Homo sapiens: one gene and its partners. The protein of the gene in region 4 purifies or fractionates together with the protein of the main gene of each other region. This does not show direct contact. Each region holds a gene or a part of one and is shown on either strand. Other genes may lie near its edges.

What was found.
Region 1: the proteins of FIGLA (region 4) and NES purify together in Homo sapiens (affinity purification with mass spectrometry; one large-scale study listed by BioGRID and IntAct). This does not show direct contact.
Region 2: the proteins of FIGLA (region 4) and HSPG2 purify together in Homo sapiens (affinity purification with mass spectrometry; one large-scale study listed by BioGRID and IntAct). This does not show direct contact.
Region 3: the proteins of FIGLA (region 4) and TINAGL1 purify together in Homo sapiens (affinity purification with mass spectrometry; one large-scale study listed by BioGRID and IntAct). This does not show direct contact.

Annotation. Positions count from the first base shown.
Region 1 is NC_000001.11:156,668,263-156,671,335, reverse strand, and holds the end of NES (nestin), read left to right. Parts: coding exon 1-2,014; 3' UTR 2,015-2,573; downstream 2,574-3,073. UniProt on the Homo sapiens protein: Required for brain and eye development.
Region 2 is NC_000001.11:21,824,767-21,829,310, forward strand, and holds part of HSPG2 (basement membrane-specific heparan sulfate proteoglycan core protein isoform b precursor), read right to left. Parts: intron 4,314-4,544; coding exon 4,069-4,313; intron 3,661-4,068; coding exon 3,489-3,660; intron 3,387-3,488; coding exon 3,264-3,386; intron 3,154-3,263; coding exon 3,097-3,153; intron 460-3,096; exon of another isoform or gene 14-459; coding exon 1-13. UniProt on the Homo sapiens protein: Integral component of basement membranes. Component of the glomerular basement membrane (GBM), responsible for the fixed negative electrostatic membrane charge, and which provides a barrier which is both size- and charge-selective.
Region 3 is NC_000001.11:31,573,982-31,580,442, reverse strand, and holds the start of TINAGL1 (tubulointerstitial nephritis antigen-like isoform 1 precursor), read right to left. Parts: upstream 3,929-6,461; 5' UTR 3,848-3,928; intron 3,310-3,847; 5' UTR 3,295-3,309; coding exon 2,985-3,294; intron 2,600-2,984; exon of another isoform or gene 2,546-2,599; intron 2,299-2,545; exon of another isoform or gene 2,255-2,298; intron 1,240-2,254; coding exon 1,176-1,239; intron 1-1,175. UniProt on the Homo sapiens protein: May be implicated in the adrenocortical zonation and in mechanisms for repressing the CYP11B1 gene expression in adrenocortical cells. This is a non catalytic peptidase C1 family protein.
Region 4 is NC_000002.12:70,775,563-70,781,694, reverse strand, and holds the end of FIGLA (factor in the germline alpha), read left to right. Parts: intron 1-4,023; coding exon 4,024-4,058; intron 4,059-4,312; coding exon 4,313-4,328; 3' UTR 4,329-4,385; downstream 4,386-6,132. UniProt on the Homo sapiens protein: Germline specific transcription factor implicated in postnatal oocyte-specific gene expression.

The DNA of each region.
Region 1 (3,073 bases), on a different chromosome or scaffold from region 4:
GGAAGATACGGTGGAGAAGGACCAAGAACTGGCTCAGGAAAGCCCTCCTGGGATGGCTGGAGTGGAAAATGAGGATGAGGCAGAGCTGAATCTGAGGGAGCAGGATGGCTTCACTGGGAAGGAGGAGGTGGTAGAGCAGGGAGAGCTGAATGCCACAGAGGAGGTCTGGATCCCAGGCGAGGGGCACCCAGAGAGCCCTGAGCCCAAAGAGCAGAGAGGCCTGGTTGAGGGAGCCAGTGTGAAGGGAGGGGCTGAGGGCCTCCAGGACCCTGAAGGGCAATCACAACAGGTGGGGGCCCCAGGCCTCCAGGCTCCCCAGGGGCTGCCAGAGGCGATAGAGCCCCTGGTGGAAGATGATGTGGCCCCAGGGGGTGACCAAGCCTCCCCAGAGGTCATGTTGGGGTCAGAGCCTGCCATGGGTGAGTCTGCTGCGGGAGCTGAGCCAGGCCCGGGGCAGGGGGTGGGAGGGCTGGGGGACCCAGGCCATCTGACCAGGGAAGAGGTGATGGAACCACCCCTGGAAGAGGAGAGTTTGGAGGCAAAGAGGGTTCAGGGCTTGGAAGGGCCTAGAAAGGACCTAGAGGAGGCAGGTGGTCTGGGGACAGAGTTCTCCGAGCTGCCTGGGAAGAGCAGAGACCCTTGGGAGCCTCCCAGGGAGGGTAGGGAGGAGTCAGAGGCTGAGGCCCCCAGGGGAGCAGAGGAGGCGTTCCCTGCTGAGACCCTGGGCCACACTGGAAGTGATGCCCCTTCACCTTGGCCTCTGGGGTCAGAGGAAGCTGAGGAGGATGTACCACCAGTGCTGGTCTCCCCCAGCCCAACGTACACCCCGATCCTGGAAGATGCCCCTGGGCCTCAGCCTCAGGCTGAAGGGAGTCAGGAGGCTAGCTGGGGGGTGCAGGGGAGGGCTGAAGCCCTGGGGAAAGTAGAGAGCGAGCAGGAGGAGTTGGGTTCTGGGGAGATCCCCGAGGGCCCCCAGGAGGAAGGGGAGGAGAGCAGAGAAGAGAGCGAGGAGGATGAGCTCGGGGAGACCCTTCCAGACTCCACTCCCCTGGGCTTCTACCTCAGGTCCCCCACCTCCCCCAGGTGGGACCCCACTGGAGAGCAGAGGCCACCCCCTCAAGGGGAGACTGGAAAGGAGGGCTGGGATCCTGCTGTCCTGGCTTCCGAGGGCCTTGAGGCCCCACCCTCAGAAAAGGAGGAGGGGGAGGAGGGAGAAGAGGAGTGTGGCCGTGACTCTGACCTGTCAGAAGAATTTGAGGACCTGGGGACTGAGGCACCTTTTCTTCCTGGGGTCCCTGGGGAGGTGGCAGAACCTCTGGGCCAGGTGCCCCAGCTGCTACTGGATCCTGCAGCCTGGGATCGAGATGGGGAGTCCGATGGGTTTGCAGATGAGGAAGAAAGTGGGGAGGAGGGAGAGGAGGATCAGGAGGAGGGGAGGGAGCCAGGGGCTGGGCGGTGGGGGCCAGGGTCTTCTGTTGGCAGCCTCCAGGCCCTGAGTAGCTCCCAGAGAGGGGAATTCCTGGAGTCTGATTCTGTGAGTGTCAGTGTCCCCTGGGATGACAGCTTGAGGGGTGCAGTGGCTGGTGCCCCCAAGACTGCCCTGGAAACGGAGTCCCAGGACAGTGCTGAGCCTTCTGGCTCAGAGGAAGAGTCTGACCCTGTTTCCTTGGAGAGGGAGGACAAAGTCCCTGGCCCTCTAGAGATCCCCAGTGGGATGGAGGATGCAGGCCCAGGGGCAGACATCATTGGTGTTAATGGCCAGGGTCCCAACTTGGAGGGGAAGTCACAGCATGTGAATGGGGGAGTGATGAACGGGCTGGAGCAGTCTGAGGAAGTGGGGCAAGGAATGCCGCTAGTCTCTGAGGGAGACCGAGGGAGCCCCTTTCAGGAGGAGGAGGGGAGTGCTCTGAAGACCTCTTGGGCAGGGGCTCCTGTTCACCTGGGCCAGGGTCAGTTCCTGAAGTTCACTCAGAGGGAAGGAGATAGAGAGTCCTGGTCCTCAGGGGAGGACTAGGAAAAGACCATCTGCCCGGCACTGGGGACTTAGGGGTGCGGGGAGGGGAAGGACGCCTCCAAGCCCGCTCCCTGCTCAGGAGCAGCACTCTTAACTTACGATCTCTTGACATATGGTTTCTGGCTGAGAGGCCTGGCCCGCTAAGGTGAAAAGGGGTGTGGCAAAGGAGCCTACTCCAAGAATGGAGGCTGTAGGAATATAACCTCCCACCCTGCAAAGGGAATCTCTTGCCTGCTCCATCTCATAGGCTAAGTCAGCTGAATCCCGATAGTACTAGGTCCCCTTCCCTCCGCATCCCGTCAGCTGGAAAAGGCCTGTGGCCCAGAGGCTTCTCCAAAGGGAGGGTGACATGCTGGCTTTTGTGCCCAAGCTCACCAGCCCTGCGCCACCTCACTGCAGTAGTGCACCATCTCACTGCAGTAGCACGCCCTCCTGGGCCGTCTGGCCTGTGGCTAATGGAGGTGACGGCACTCCCATGTGCTGACTCCCCCCATCCCTGCCACGCTGTGGCCCTGCCTGGCTAGTCCCTGCCTGAATAAAGTAATGCCTCCGCTTCAAAGTCTGGACTCTTCTTTCCCCCACTCAGAGGGGACCCTCAGGGTTAGTACAGGAGAGAGATGGCGGGGGCGGGCGGGGGGTGGCGGGGGAGAGGAGGAAGCTGGTGCTGGGGAGGGGCTGCCTCCTGAGGAGAGGAGGACCTGGGGGGATGAGGGCAGACAGACCCAAGCTGCAGGGAGCAGTGCTGGGGCCTGGGGAGGGCCAGGGGCTGTTGCTTGGCTGGGGGAGGCCAGTCCAGGTGACCTCAGCGCCTGCAGAAGCCAGGCCCATCATCATCTCTGCCCACAGTACTGATTACAGGGATTAGGCCTTGGGGCCACCCCCACCCTTGTATACCCCCCCCCATTAGTGCCTTGGTGCCGCCAGCATAATAAGCCCCCTTGTCTCTAAACCCAAACAAGTTGTCTGGCCTGATCTCCTCAGCCTGACTGGGTGGGAGCAGGGTGAGGGAAGAGGCAGGCCTGTTCTTCCTCAGTCTGGCTGCATGGCCTCAGGTCAGCA
Region 2 (4,544 bases), on a different chromosome or scaffold from region 4:
TGCCCAGGGGCATCTGTGGGAGAGAGGAGGGTGGTGCCATACCTGCTGCATCAGGCATCAAAATCCCCCGTCAGTTCCCCTGACCCCCACCTCCACGCCAACATGCAGGACTAGGGGGCTCCGAGCCTGCAGTCCCTGGGGACCCACGGGGGCTGCCAACAGAATTCAGGGAGCCTATGACCTTGGATGGGAAAGCATTACACCTCAATTTCACTCACTTCTCACTGAAATTGAGCAGTTCTTTCAATGAGATGTAGGCAAGAAACCAAAGTAGCAGTGGTAGGACCTGCAACTTTGTTACTAGTATTTGCTTATCACATGACAGTAGCTGCAAATATTTCAAAATATCATTTACACATATTGCTGCTTTGAAATTGTGGTAGCTACTGAGATCACCAGATCTTGTTATTTGATGTGTTAATAAAGAAGCACATATATAGCAAGTCAGGAAACTTAAAACATGTTTTGATTACTTTACTTCAGCATAATTGCTTTCCTTAAATCAATGTATTTTATTTTATTTTATTTTGTGTAGTCAACAGGATCCGTGTCGGGTGACCCGCCATTCTACTTGCCAAATTCTGTCTGGCTTTAGCCCTGAAAGTCCCACATCCCAAGAAACCCCTCAGTCCGGAGCTACTGGGACCGTTGGTCACCTTGGACTGTGGCAATAAATGGTTCAGAGCCTTGGTGTTCTCTCCATCTTACAGAAGAGCAGGCAGGCTTGGGCGAGTGACTGGCCCAGGATGTCCATACTGTGTGTGGCTCCACACCCCCCCAGCCCTATCTGCTCATGACCCATCCCACAGGCCGGCACTGGCCACAGTAGCTCTGGCAGGGGACAAGAGTAGGGGACCCTCTGCTACCCTCCACCAAATGATGAGGAGAACGGCTGACATTTACCTAACACCTATGATGTGGCTGTGCGGGGAGCGTCCCATCCAGCTACAGACACCACTGCATTTAACTCAATCCTTACAACAACCCTATGAATGAATATTATATATAGATAATTTTTATTTTATTTATTTATTTTTGAGATGGAGTCTCGCTCCGTGGCCCAGGCTGGAGTGCAGTGGCACAATCTTGGTTCACTACAACCCCCACCTCCCAGGTTCAAGCAATTCTCCTGCCTTGGCCTCCCGAGTAGCTGGGACTACAGGTGTGCACCACCACACCTGGCTAATTTTTGTATTTTTAGTAGAGATGGGGTTTCGCCATGTTGGCCAGGCTGGTCTCGAACTGATCTCAGGTGATCCACCCACCTTGTCCTCCCAAAGTGCTGGGATGACAGGTGTGAGCCACCGCACCCAGCCTTATTTTTTATTTTTTTGAGACAGGGTCTCAGTCTGTTGCCCAGGCTAGAGTGCAGTGACACAATTGTAGCTCACTACAGCCTCGACCTCCTGGGCTCAAGTGATCCTTCTGCCTCAGCTGGGACCATAGCCATGTGCCACCACACCCAGCTAATTCTTAAATTTCTTGTAGAGATGAGGTCTCCCTGTGTTGCCCAGGTTGATCTTGAACTCCTGGGCTCAAGCAATCCTCCTGCCTGTCTCCTGAGTAGCTGGGACCATAGATGAGCACCACCATGCCCAGCTACTTTTTGTATTTTTTTGTAGAGACAGGATTTCGCCTTGTTGCCCAGGCTGGTCTGGAACTCCTGGGCTCAAGCAATCTGCCCGCCACAGCCTCCCAAAGTGCTGGGATTATAGGCGTGAGTCACCATACCCAGCTGAATATAGTATTTTTTTTTGAGAGGGAGTTTCGCTCTTGTTGCCCAGGCTGGAGTGCAATGGTGCATGCAATCTTGGCTCATGGCAACCTCCACCTCCCAGGTTCAAGCGATTCTCCTGCCTCAGCCTCCGGAGTAGCTGGGATTATAGGCATGTGCCACCACGCCCAGCTAATTTTGTATTTTTAGTAGAGATGGGGTTTCTCCATGTTGGTCAGGCTGGTCTCAAATTCCCAACCTCAGGTGATCTGCCCGCTTCAGCTTCCTAAAGTGCTGGGATTACAGGCGTGAGCCAGTGTGCCCGGCCAGCTGAACATAATATTAACAACAGCTAACATTCTGTACTGACTCTGTACCACACATTGTTCTAGGCATTTAAAATGCACTAAGTGGCCGGGCGCGGTGGCTTATGCCTGTAATCCAGCACTTTAGGACGGTGGCTTACGCCTGTAATCCAGCACTTTAGGAAGCCAAGGGGGGCGGATCACCTGAGGTCAGGAGTTAGAGACAGGCCTGGCCAACATGGTGAAACCCCATCCCTACAAAAAATACAAAAATTAGCGGGGTGTGGTGGCAGGCACCTGTAATCCCAGCTACTCAGGAAGCTGAGGCAGCAGAATCGCTTGAGTCTGGGAGGCGGGGGTTGCAGTGAGCCGAGATTGTGCCACTGCACTCCAGCCTGGGTGAAAGAGCAAGACTCCACCTTAAAAAAAAATGCACTAAGTAATTTTACTCTCACATAAAATTTTATCCAAATCTTTAGGGAAAGATGTTACTCATCTCCATTTTATATGAGGCACAGAGAGGTTAAGCGACTCACCCAAAGTTCCACAGCTAGTAAGTGGGAGAGCTAGGATTTGAACCCAAGCAGGCTGGCTCCAAGTCTATACTCTTACCCACTATACCACTGCCTCGCCTATTATATTAGTGATACATAAGAAGAGATGTGTCTGTAAAGGGGTTAGCACAGTGTCCGTAAACATTCAATCAGCATTCACTCTTCACTGTTTCCTTAGCTTTTCAGTAGACGGTGGAATTCTTGGGAATGAGGGTCTTGCTTTATGCATCTTATATTTACTGCTCTCAGGGCAAGGATGGGCAACAATAGTTTGTTGACTGAATACATGAATACAGAGGAGGAAACTGAGGTCAGAGTGGTTTCAAAGGCCTGCCCAAGGTCACCCAGCCAGTAAGTGTGGGGCAGGCCCTAGCTCCACATGGCTGTGGTCTTCATTCTGTCTCTCTGCCCAGCAAGCTCCTCATATAAAGCTGTTTTGCTTGCAGGCCAGAATTGAGGGTGTGGGGTAACTGGAAGAGTGAGCTGAGCTGAAGCTGGGGAGGAGGCCATGGCAAGTACTCACCATTGCCCCCGCTGCCTTCAAGATGCCAGTCGGACTCTGCTATGCCATGTCCAGAGCCTATGGAGAAGGGCAGGGTCCAGTTGGTGGGCATAGACACCCGTGGGTACTATGTCGAGCTCCGGGGCCCCAAGACAGAGATGAAGTGGAGAGAAGCCAGGCCTGGGTACCTTGTTGGCAGCGTGGGCCAGAGAAGCCAGGGAGGCAGAGGCAGCGGGTGCCCTGGCAGGTGCCCCCATGCAGACAGGGTTCACGGAGCTGGCAGGGGTTCTCCTCGTGCTCACACAGGTCTCCTGTGGGCCAGGGCAGAGGCGAGTGGGTGGGTGGGCATGGGCTGGAGGTGTCGCTGACCACCTGTGCCCCTCCCCTCCGGTGCCCTGGGCAGGCTTTCCCACCTTTGAATCCATCTCGACACAGGCACTGGAACTCATACTCGCCAGCGGGCATGCACGTGGCACCATGTTGGCAAGGCTGGCGCTCACATGGGGAGCTATCATAGCATTGCCCGATGCCCTGGCTGCCTAGGAAACTGTAGGTGAGGTCCAGCCGTTTGCCATTCACTGACACCTGTGGGGACAGGGACACCGAGGGACTAAAGGGGCCTGGGAGGCAGAGACCCAGGTGTACCAGCAGGGAGAAGAATGCAGCAGAGGGGAGCTGGGAGCCCACATTGGGCCCTGAGTGGTAGCATGGATTCTCGGTGTGGGGAGGGAGGCGCAGGAGTTGAGTGCCTACTGTGTGCTAGAAACATTCATCCGTCAGTGCAGACAATCCTCTGCCCAACCTTTCAAAGTAGGTGTGATCATGCCCATTTTACAGAGGAGGAAACTGAGGCTCAGAGGTACAGTGTCCTGGCCCAGGGCCCGTGGGTGGCTGCAGGTGGAGGGGCCCAATGCCAAGGTGCTTGGAGAGCCGAGGGGGACACAAGGCTTGGCACCCCTCCCCTCCCGCTTGTCCCGAGGAGGCTGCTCTTACCTCGCCCACACAGCCGCGGAAGTGAGCGCTCATGTTGGTGGCCGGGGACAGTGGCACGGAAGGCTCCACACCCCCCAGGTAGAGCAGGGTGTGCAGGTTGAGGCCCTGGCTCTTGCCGGGCGAGGAGCGCAGCACAGGGCGTCCACCATTCACCCGCAGGCTGCCGTCCTTGTTGAGACGCTCTGCAGACACACGGTGCCAGCGGCCCAGGGCCAGCGGCTCGGCGCTCCGCAGAACGGCCAGCCCTGGGGAGGATGCCAGGCAGGGTTGGGCACATGGGGGCACACGGGGCTCCCTGCCCTCTCCACCACAAACAGGGCCCTGAGCAGATGGGGAATGCCCTACAGCCTTCTGTATTCCAGATGAGGAGCCCATGGCTCAGAGAGGGCTAGGGATTGGCCTCAAGTGACACAGAGACGAAATGCACAGGAAGAGGGGACTTGCCCTGATCCCTGCATTTATCCTCCCATGCCTCC
Region 3 (6,461 bases), on a different chromosome or scaffold from region 4:
CTGGACACTCCCCCACCCTCGCCCCCAGAGCCTTCATGAGGAGAGGGCAGTAGACTGTTCTGTCCTTTCCTGCCATCTCCTCCTTTGCCCCCAGGGCTGCCCACACAGGTCCAGGCAGGGCCGGTGGTAGCAGGTCCCAGCATTCCAGAGGGGGCCTAAGGGGCCAGGGACAGCAGTGAGAGAGAGAGAGACAGAGAGAGAGAGACAGAGAGAGACAGAGAGAGAGAGACAGAGAGAGAGAGAGAGAGAGAGAGAGAGAGAGAGAGAGAGAGAGAGAGAGCGCATTAACCCCTCAACGTCCAGAGCCATCCTATCAGAACCTGCAGACGCGGGCCAGGCATGTTTTATCCTTTTGAACACACACACACACACACACACAGTGCACACACAGTCACGCTGAACACCCAGACACATGCTGAAACGTTCCCTCCCTCACTGTGACCCGGGCACCCCTCACCCTAGTGAGGCAATGGAAATATCTTATGCGCAATGCATTCCAAAAAGTTTCCTTCTCTCTGGGGCCTCTTAGTCCCAGGCAAAGAGGGAGTGGGGGTGGAGTGGGTGCAGGGCCGCCTCCTCCAAGTCGCAGGCTCCCCATTATTTCTATTAAGGCTTTCAGGGTTTCCTACCTGGCCCTTCTCCACTTCCCATCTCAGACTGAATAGGGGGGTACCCATGACCCCTTCCTCCTCCTACTGGGAATGGTGGGGAGGGGTGGGGAAGGAAAAAGGGGCCACATTTCAGGGAAGGCCCTGCTAGAGGCTGGCTGGCCGCCCGCTCAGCCATCCCTGACCCTCATCCGCTCAGGGCAGCGGATGCTGCAGTCAGAGCTTTCCTTCCTGGCGCCCCCTTCTCCCTCTGACTCTGCAGTGACAGCAGGAATAGCTGGGAGGAATAGCCCAGCCCAAGCCAGGAGGGGTGGGGAAGGATCTCAGTTCAAGGGTGACCCCTGGGCCAGGCACCCATGGCTGGCCATGCTTGAGGAATGTTGTTGGAATGATGTTAGATAAGTTGACTTGGTCAGTGTTAAAATTCCTCTATTGCAGATGAGGAAACTGAGGTTCAAAGAAGGGAAAAGACTTCTCCCTTGCAAAAGGGGTCAGGGATAAGATTTGAACCAAGTCTGTCAGCCACAGGCTCACAAAGCAAGACCCCTCTAAGCTCCAAACACTCACCAACGGTTACAGTTGTCCCAGTACGTTCCCAAGACTGGATAGATACGACCTCCATGCATACATCCTGTTGGAAGGGAAGAGAAGAGAAGTGGAACCAGAACCAGAGAGGATGGGCTAATTGGCCAGGTCCTTGGAGGTCAGGTACCTTGAACCTTTCCAAGATTCTCTCTCTTTCTCTCTCTCTGTCTCACACACACACACACATACCAGCTCTCACTGAAATTAAACTATAACTGAAGACATCACACACACACACACACACACACACCAGCTGTCACTAAAATTAAACTATAACTGAAGGCATCACACACACACACACACACATACCAGCTCTCACTGAAATTGAAGCCAAACTATAACTGAAGATATCACACACACACACACACACACCAGCTCTCACTGAGATTAAGCTATAACTGAAGACATCACACACACACACACCAGCTCTCACTGAAATTAAACTATAACTGAAGACATCACACACACACACACCAGCTCTCACTGAAATTAAACTATAACTGAAGACATCACACACACACACACACACCAGCTCTCACTGAGATTAAGCTATAACTGAAGACATCACACACACACACACACACACACACACCAGCTCTCACTGAAATTAAACTATAACTGAAGACATCACACACACACACACCAGCTCTCACTGAAATTAAGCTATACTGAAGACAACACACACACACACACACACCAGCTCTCACTGAAATTAAGCTATAACTGAAGACATCACACACACACACACACATACCAGCTCTCACTGAAATTAAACTATAACTGAAGACATCACACACACACACACACACACACACCAGCTGTCACTAAAATTAAACTATAACTGAAGGCATCACACACACACACACACACATACCAGCTCTCACTGAAATTGAAGCCAAACTATAACTGAAGATATCACACACACACACACACACACCAGCTCTCACTGAAATTAAGCTATAACTGAAGACATCACACACACACACACACACACACACACACACACCAGCTCTCACTGAAATTAAACTATAACTGAAGACAAATCCTGCAGGGTCACACACCAACTGCTGTTTGGGAAGTTCTTCAATGATTCCAACCTGGATTCCTCTTACTTTACTTGGATGCCAGCCACAACATTCCTGGGATCCTTTTCCATTTAAATAAGTTAGGGCTTGGAGATGGGGAGTGGGAGGAGCATGGGGAAGCCAAGGCCCAGAGAAGGTAAGCAACCGTCCTAAGATAACACAGCACTCTTGAGATGACAGCTCAGGTATGCAGTCTGCCGGCCCAAGCCCCATGGAACTGTGGGAAGGAACGCAAGTGATTCTCCTATTGGACAGGGGCAAGTGCATGGAAAAGGATGATGGTGAGGCTGAAAGCAGGAAAAGATTTGACCCATCTCCCAGGTATGAGCAGCCATCTCGGGGCACAGGATCCTAGAATCCTCAGCAAAGGCAGAAAAATGGCTAAGATGACCCTCACCAACCCATATGTGCCTTATCAGCCCAAGAGTGAGTCAGCAGGTGCGGCCAGCACCTTCCGTGTCTGGAAAAGAGACAGGATTGGGAGAAAATGTGGGAGGTTGCCCTTTCCCTGGGCCAAATTAGAATTCTAACCAAGGAGCTTCTTCAGTCTTGCTGGAGAGTAAAGTTCCCAGAGGGGCAGGGAAGAGTCCCAGATTCTACAGAGCTTCCCCTGGAAATGTCAGTGCATCCATCAGCTTTGCTCTTGAGCCTTGCTGAGTCTGAGGTGGACAAAGTGACCCACCCTCCTGGCCATCTTAGTGCCCACCTTGGATCGGGGGAAAAGGGGGTGGCACGCCGAGGCAGAAGTCCCAGAAGTCAGGGCAGCAGTCGGAGACCGTGCGGTTGCAGAAGAGGTCACAGTAACAGATGGCGCCCAGGTAGGGCAGGGCACAGTCGTCGGCACGGCCGCGGCAGCACAGGTCCTGCTCCTGGCAGTACCGGCCTCCCGCGTCCCGGATGCCCCGCAGGTGCAGACCCGGTGCTAGCTCCCGGCGCCCACGACCCTGCTGGGCACCCAGAGCCAAGTGGCCAGCCAGCGGCAGCAACAGCAGTAGCCCCAGTGGACATCGCCACATGGTGGCTCCTGGGCCCTGGGGGGCAGAGATGGTGGGCAGCAGAGACTCCCTGGAACACCAGGGATGAGTCTCCCAGTTTCCTGGAGCTGTGAGTTCAAGAGGGCCCAGCAGGGAGGGAGATCCCGATTCCTGAGTCCCCAGGCAGGACACGGGCAGAGGAGCCCCAGTGTGTGGGCCCTGGCTATAGGGGGATGGGGACTGGGCAGAAACGGAGCCCCTCCCTGACCTAGGCAGGGACCTTCAAGGACAAGGAAATGAGGGTGGTGGCATTCTTGGTGCTCCCACCCAACACTCATCCTGTGGACCCAAGGTCTTCTCTCCTGTCCTAGGTCTCTCTGCCCTCCAGCAGCCTCCATCCCTGACCTGGGTCCTTGACTTTGTGCTTTCCTGTCTCCCCCGGTCTTTTGGGTACACCTCTCTTCTGTTCCTGTGTCCCTCTGTCCCCCTCCACTGTCCCTCTCTCTGCCATCTGTCTTGGTTCCTCTACCTGCCCCCTCCCCCTGTTTCTTCTCTGTCTACACCTTCCGCCCTCTGAGCAGGGGAGCGTCCCTACCTGGTGAAGGTGTGGGCTGGGGCCCAGGCTGGCCCGCGCGCCTCCGCCTCCTGGCTCTGCGACCGCCGGACGCTCAAAGTCAAGAGAGGAGCGCGGGGCGGGGCGCTTTTTGTACCGCCCGCCCTCTGCACCGCCCCAGCAGTGGCGGAAGGGAGGGGCGCCTGGCTTGTACCTGGAGTAACTACCCCACAACTCATGGGCTTGCAGGGTGGAGAAACGACAAGCACACGATTGTCCTGGCTGGGTCTCCTGTGGCGGAAGCCGTTCCCTTAGGGGAACCCCAAGCAGGAAGGATTGCGGTTTCACACTGGGAAGGACTTCACAGTGGGCATCCCTGTGGAGCTGAGGGGCTCTGGTGGAGAAGGGGGGATATGGGCAGCCGAGCTCTGGGTTATGGACACAAGTTTGGGAAATGATGGGGAGGGCATGTGAGGCAAAATTCTGTAAGCCTCTCCTGACCCCTCGGTAATAAAAATAGCCATGCACACCCCTCTCCACTGTGCCCCCTAGGCTTGGGTGCCGCCCCCCTAGCCACCCCAGCTCCTAGGAATGATTGGAATTCCAGGAGTATGATCCTTAGGTGCCCTGGGCGGCTCATCCCTGGGAGGTGGGCAGGGTGTGGGGGTGGCCTCTGCACCCTTTGATCCCTTGTTGAGTCTGCCTTCCCTTGCCTGCTTGGGCCCCTAGACGAGCACTGCCCTCTCTAGCAAACCCAAGGGCATCCTGCTTGGCACCTGTCCCCCTCCAAGGGTCCAAAGGCAAGGGCCCTACCAGCTGGCACCCCCTGCAGAGGCCCTCCTTCCTGCCGCAGGCATAAACCTTTCTTTGCCCAGGCTGGCCTGGGACCCAAACAATGGGGCTTCTGTCCCGCCAGGTCTGCCGTCACCTTTTACCTCCCTATTGTGCAACGCCCTCTCTTCAACAGGTTGGGCCCAGGCCAGAGGTCTCTACCAGCAAAGAGGATAAAAGAGACTACACCTGGACAAACCCTCCCAGGCCCAGGCCTGAGCCTCACATGTGGCCCCGGGGAAGGCATCAGGGACTCCCTTTGCCCTCCCACTGACCTCCCTGCAAACCTCCCCCAAACCAAGGGGCATCCTCAGCTGGCCAGACCCTGGGGGAAGGGAGAGAGCCGAGGATCACCGGCACCTGTGGCTGGGTTACCCCTGCCATGGACCACTGGGTGGTGAGTCACCAAGGGGGTCCTGCCCTGGTGGTGGGGGTGGAGGGATAATATCCGGGGGCCCCAGCACTGGCACTAACACACCCAGGAGCTGCCCATCTGCTCCCTGCAGGGACCTGGGAGGACAAAGCCTAGGTGGGAAACTGAGGCTCAGAAGAATGCACTTGCCTGAGGTCGTGCAGCCAGAACACAGGCTCCCTGCCTGCCACCAGCCCACTCCTTTACCCCTAGTCACCCTTAGTCACCCACTACAGGTCTCAACGTGCTCCTGGTTGGGAAGTCTCTTTTCTTATCTAAACTCCATTCATCTTACTGCAGGACGGGCCCCTCGGTATTGGTAAATGTCATATCCTCAGGGTAAGAGATGAAAGCTGCTTTCTTTCAAAAGAGTTCGTGTCCAGAGTTCCTACTTTTATGGTACCTACTTTTTCATGGTTCTGGGGCTGGGGGCTTGTTTAGAGACATCTGGCCTCTCTTTTGCCCAAAATCACACCGCATAGGCTACCCTCGTGAGTCTGGGTGTGTTATCTCTGTGTGCATGTATGCATGTGTATATCTGAGTTGCGGTGTTTGTGGGGGTGTTTCTGCTTCTGCTTGAGTCTGTCAGTCCACATCTGATCGTCTGGGTTTTTTTTGCTTTTTGTTTTTTGTTTTTTTTTGAGACAAGGTCTCACTTTGTCACCCAGGCTGGAGTACAGTGGCGCGATCTCGACTCACTGAAGCCTTGACCTCCTGGGCTCAAGTAATCCTCCCACCTCAGCTTCCTGAGTAACTGGGACTACAGGTGCACACCGCCATGCCTGCCTGAATTTTTTTTGTATTTGTAGTAGAGATGGGGTTTCACCATGTTGCCCAGGCTGGTCTCCAACTCCTGAGCTCAAGCAATCCGCCTGCCTTGGCCTTCCGAAGTGTGTTTACCTGTCTATCTGCTATGTGCCTGTGTATCTGTGAGTCTGGATATTTTGGCTATCTGCCTGTCCTTGTCTGACTGATTGTCTGCTTGTCTATCCATTTACCTGTCCATCTGCTACATACCTGTGCATCTGTGTGTGTGTATCTGTCTGGATGTTGTCTCTGTGTCCATTATGGATCTGTCTGTCTGCCAGCGTGTGTTGTTTGCCTGCATTTGTGCACTTGTTGGCTTGTATGTCTGTGTGTGTGTCCTGCCTGTGCCTCCCTGTCTAAGAGGTGTCTGTGTATCTGTGTGGGAGTTGTGGCCATCTGCCTGTCCTTGTCTGCCTGCCTGTCTGTGCATAAGAGGCAGGGACTCAGAGCAGGGGATGGGAGCAGAGCCAGAGCCTCCCACCATCACTCAGCTTGGCACAGAGCCCGCCCCAGTGGAATTTTGTGACTCACTGGGTTCCTTGGCCGAGGAGGAAAAGGGCAGGGCCGGGGGTGCTGGACACCCCCACTTTCCTTTTCCATGACCCT
Region 4 (6,132 bases):
GACTTTTACAGATGGTCTTTTTCCACTCAGATGATGCCCTTGAGATCATCCACATTGTATAAATGGTCTGTTCCTCTGCTTTTTGCTGAGTAGTCATCTGTGGTGTGGATGTACCACAGTTTAACTGTTCACGTAAATATTTTAGAACATTTTGGTTGTTTTTATACAGACATTTTTATATTAGTATGAGCTCATGGTTTTCTGTTTAATTCAGTGGATTATTATATACTATCATTTTTTATTATTTTATTGCTCCAATTGTCCCCACTGTGGCCAGCGAAAGCTCCTTAAGCTGGCAGCCTTTCTGTTTGATATGTCATCACGATTATTTGATCATTTCCTTTTTGGCAGAAGGTGTTCCAAGCTCATCTTGTACTTTTCTATCCCAGCCCTGGAATCAGCCACTTATCTGAGGATGCCCCTGTGTATAACCCATCTCCCATCTCTGTTGCCATCCCCTCACCACATGGCTGTTCTCCTCACCCACTTGAACTTTAACACTCATGGCAAGCTGTACCTCCGCAAAAACCTCCTTCTTGGCTCTGACGTTCCACGCCGGTCCCCTCATATGTGGATTCCTCCTCTCCCTGCTCTCGCTAAATCACCTGCACACACAAGTGCCTGGCCTACTCAGCTCAGGTTTCTCTACTCCATGCTGAACTGCCCCTTTCCATGGACTTCTTACCCAGCTTGGGCTCTGAGTCCCCAGGCCAGGCCTCCACTCCTTTCATGGGGCTGCCGTTCTCATCCTGATTGGGCTGTACCATGTTTGCACTGGACCACACCCCCCATGTGAATATGCCCCTCATCTGCTGGATCTCTGATATCCTGCGCTGGGCTGCCTCTGTATGTGGGTGCCATCTCACCCTGCTTGGGCTCTGATACCACTTCACTTGGGTCACTGTGGCTTCTCACTACCTAACTGTGACCCAACTGATGACATTAGTACTGAATTGTTTAGGAGGGAGAAGAACTCGCATTTTCTTTGAAGTACCTACTGTGCAGCCGTCTTTCTGGCTAGTTTTCTCTTTGTTAACATTTATCTCTGAGATCTTTAATTATATGTGAGTTGAGCGATTATTCAATATCACCTTTATTAACTGTATAAAAAGCTTGCATTTTACAATCAGGAACCAGGGTGGGCTCAAGATAAAAAGGGTCCAAGGAAGTGATGCTCAGGCTGACCTTTATTTGACAAAAGGATCCTCGTAAAGATTCAGCCCAGCTTTCCTGAAGCGGTGACTCCATAAGGTTTCAGGATCCTGTCCAGACTAGAGACCTAGTGACAGATAATGTGACTCATTGGACAGAAATGCTCATATCCAGAGGAGCTTAAGATTTGGGAGGCAGGCCCTCTCCAGCTTCAGTTTGCAGGAGTGGCACCCTTTTCCCTACCCTTGATGAGGACCCAGGGAATGAAATCCTGGTAGTGGCAGGGATGGGCGTTTTGGGGGATTTGGAGATGGGGTCAGAGCAGGCTGTGCAAGATCAACAACATTCCTGGGAGGCAAAGTCCCAAATGAAGTGCATGAGAATCTGCTGATGACAGGGATGGAGATTAACGTCTGGGGCCAGAGCCCCAGAAGTTCACTCGGGGAATGAATTGGCAAGTATTCGTGCAGACAGAGAGGGCCGTGAGCCATGAGAAGCCACAGCATGTGGTGTTGGTAGGGAGAAAAATTAATTTCAAGGTCCAGGAGAGGCCTGTTTAAAATTAGAGCTTCAAAGTGTAGGTTTTTGCCATATTGGGGTTGGCATTGCTAGATGGCAGGCTGTTCGCTGTCTTGCCATTGTATATTCCTTCTATTTGCCACTCGTGGTTATGGTTCTGGCATTTCATATTATGCATGGCTCTAAATTTTGTTCAGAGTTGCCAGTGACACTGTAGAGACCATGTCTCTAGACAAAGACCACCCTCAATTTTGGAGTGAGATGCCAAGAGTGCTGGGGCTTGAGGGCCTTTGGAAAGGGACATATGGAGAGACATAGTATCTGTTACAGGGGCCTTGGTATGCTGCCAGTATATATTTCCAAACTCTGGCATGTCATGGGAATGTTCCTTGAAAGAGTTTCTGAGAGAAAGAATCCTGTGTGGATGGTAGACTCCTACCACCCCTGTTCCAAGTTGCGGTAATCTGTGAAATTACTCACTGGGGACATTTCTTCCTATAGCATTTTAAGCTCTGAAATGAGACGGTTTGGCTAGTTGGGATGAATTCATTAGCACCTTGGGAAAGACCTGAAGCCTCTTTCTTCTGTCTTCCACCTCACATTCCCCCAGGTAGTGGCTCTATACGATGGTAAAACTTCTACCACAGTAAGTGATGGGTCTCGCTTTGCTTGAGAAGCACAGTCATCTGCCCTGGGGTTCACCAATAGCCCATGGGGCATATTCTGATGAGATTAGTCAGCCCAGCATTTTCCAAAGTTGTTTCCCATTTAATGGGGTGGGTGCCTTCTGGTTTGTCCCAGTCCTCCCCACTCCTTCCTGCACCAGAGTAGCATATTTCACCTGGTAAGGTGTTGGGATTTTCTGCCCTGGTCTAAAGGCACAGTGGCTCAGAGGAAAAGCTGCTCCGGCGACTGCATTTATAGCCCTGGGATTTTACTGTGCTCTCTATACTTTGGGGATTTAGGGGCTGGTGCTGTGATGGTGCCTATGCTTGTGGTTCTCTGGGATTTTGGAAAGAGCCTTGCTTTTCAGATTATCATAGGAACAGGGACTGAACTCTAAAGCTGAGTGAGCAAGGATTTCTGTTTACCCCATCTCCCTCACCAAGCCTGGCTCAGTGGGTGGAGGAATGTACATTGGATAATACGTCAAATTCTGCAGCCACACTGCCAACAATTGGAGTGTGCCTGCCTTCTTAAAGATATTAAGCAGCAAACTGGGTTTCTATTCTCCAGACTACCCTCTTCTTGGACCTTAAACTCTTTGGCTTAGATGAGACCAACAGCCAATTTTTAATGAGCTGTGACAATAAAGACAACATTTATAAACTTTGGCAAGTTTTTCTATTCTCATACTTAAATATTACGTTTCTGAAATTTTCCAGCTAATTCTTAAAAACAAACTAAAATAAATGTTCTAAAATGCAGTAGACTATAGGCAGAATATTGTCATCCTTTAATCCTTCAGGTAAATTTATATGAATTTGTCTCAAGTATAAAAAATTCTAAATATGAAAAAAATTAAAATTTATTTTAAAAATAAAGCTTCCAAAGCTAGGTCTGAACTATAAAAAGAAAGAAATGTTGATCACTTGTATAGTGGAAAGACTCGATCAAGATTAGAAAAAAAAAGCTACTCATACATATTTTGTGTCAGAGACTGCTCCTGGCAGTGTATACATATTAACCTATTTAATTTTCACAACCACCCTGTGCTATACAAACAATTATATCCATTTTACATGTGAGGAAACTAAGGAACAGAAGTAACTTGCCCAATACCTGCAAGTCAGTGAAGTGTTGGGGTTGGGGGGGATGTGGGTGATAGTGTTAAGTCCTTTTTAACCACTTTCGTTCTAACAAAACTCAACTTTGAAATGTAAAGGAGGGTGGACTAGAAAATAGATAAATGTTTAAGGCTAAGTTAAAGCATTTGATTGCGGTGCTTTACCATCCACAGTGATGTACATAATAGGTTTCAGTATCCAAAATGCCTGACCATGACTTGAGCGGCTTTATTTTTCAGTCATGGGTTTATTTTTTCTTCAAGTTGAGAGTTTCAGAAAATTGAGCAGAGACAAAATGATCTTGCCACGTTAGTAAAACCACTGATGGAAATACACTAAAATCCTTCCCATTTCTTTTCCTTTGCAACTAAAATAAAAAATTATCATCAGGTACATAACATTGTGTGCCTGTTCTTGATTTTTCTATCACTGGCATGTTTATGTGACCCATTAGGTGGGACAATTTTTTTACTGTTGGCCACTATGTTCTCAGTTTTTTGTTCTCTTAAACGTGACAAATAACCGATGTGTTTAGCCCTTTCTGTATTTTGTATTGTTTTTGCAGGATAGATTCCCAGAAGTAGAACTGCTGAGTCACAGGTAGGTCATTCTATAACCTGATGCATAGTGCCAATTTATAACACCACTGGCTGTATAATAAGAGTGCTAATTCCATCACATTCTTAGCAATGAGCTCTATTAAAAGAAGGAATCTTAATGGGTAAAAAAGTAGTATCTTTAAATTTAAACATCTTTGATTACTAATAAAATTAATTTTTTGCATATTTCTTTATTTCTTTTGTAAACGGTTCTTATTTTTAACTATTTATAATGGAATGTTTTCTCTGTTTCAGACTTCCACAAGTATGAAAAATGAAAAGGCCCAGGGTTACCTTCTAGAGACAAATAAATGCAGTCTTGAAAGTTTTGGAGTCTCTCTTTTTTTTTTTTTTTTGAGATAGAGTTTCACTCTTATCACCCAGGCTGGAGTGGCACGGTGTGATCTCGGCTCACTGCAACCTCCGCCTCCTGGGTTCAAGTGATTCTCCTGCCTCAGCCTCCTGAGTAGCTGGGATTACAGGCATGCGCCACCACGCCCAGCTAATTTTTGTATTTTTAGTAGAGACAGGGCTTCTCCACGTTGGTCAGGCTGGTCTCGAACTCCCGACCTCAGGTGATTCAACCACCTCAGCCTCCCAAAGTGCTGGGATTACAGGAATGAGCCACTGTGCCCCGTGGGAGTCTCTTTTTTAAAAAAGAAGTTTTGTAGTAATTCCGAGTTTAACAATTACCCTTTTAAATAGCCTTGCCTCTCTCAAGTTTACTCCACTCTGCCTTCTCCTTAACTTCATGCTTTGAAGAAATAGGCTTCAGGGGCTTCATCCTTTGCTTCCAACTCACTGTCATCCTCTGGGGACCTACATCTTTTTTTCATTGCTTTGAGAAATAAGTGACTGTTACCCTTCCAATAGAAATTAACCTTAATAGAAATGAAGACTTAAGCTAAAAGAGTTGTAAACATTGGCCAAGGGGAGTGAGAGTTTTCAAGGGTTTCTAGATACCCAGCTAAGGCCAAATGGCACCTTTTGTGCAAGGTAGACAGCCAAACACCTTGAGCACAAAGACTTCGTCTTTATAACCATTGCTCACAAAGACATAGTACTTATTATATGCTGGATTCTGTTCTCTATGCTTTCCATGTGTTAACTTGTTCTTACAACAAGCGTAAGATAATGGCATAAGTATCCCCATTTCACAGATGGGAAAACCAAGGTACAGAAAGTATAATTAGCTTAGCCTGCCTTAACAAATACCATAGACTGGGTGGCTTAACAACGGAGATTTATTTCTTATAGTTCTAGAGGCTGGAAAGTCCAAGATTATGGTCTGGCATTGTTCAGTTTCTGATGAGGGCTTTCTTCCTGGCTTGCAGATGACTGCCTTGTCACTGTGTCCTCATATGGCAGAGAGATAGCTAGCTTTGGTTTCCCTTCTTCTTATAAGGGCACCAATCCTATTGGATTAGGGCTCCATCCTGATGACTTCATGTAATCTTAATATCTCCTAGAGACCCTGTCTCCAAATACAGCCTTATTGGGGGTTAGGCTCTCAATATATGAATTTTGGGTGAACATATGCTGTTCATAGCATTCTGTCCCTAGCCCTTCCCCCAAATTCATTTTATCACATGCAAAATATATGCATTCCACCCCAGCAGCCCCCAGAATCTAAACTCATTCTCACTTTAAAGTACAAAGTCTCATTTAAATATCTTCTAAATCAGGTATGGGTGAGACTTGAGCTATGATTCCTATCTTTCTCCAGCTGTGAACCTCTGAAACCAGACAAGTTATGTGCGTCCCAAGCACAATGGTGAGACAGGTGTAGGATTGACATTCCTATTCCAAAAAGGAAAAATAGGAAACAAAGTGTTAATGGGTCCCAAGCAAGTCCAAAACCTATTGAGGCAAATTCCATTATATCTTAAGCCTCAAGAATAAATCCTCTTTGCTTTGATGCAGTGTCATCCTTGTGGCTTGGCAGGGTGACCTTCCCTCGGAAACTGAGGAGGAACTCAGCTCTTCTCCTGCCTGTGCCCCCTCCTCCAAAACATACACACACACACTGAGTGGCCACCCTGATCTCTGAGTTGCCTTTGGGGTCATTTCTTTCC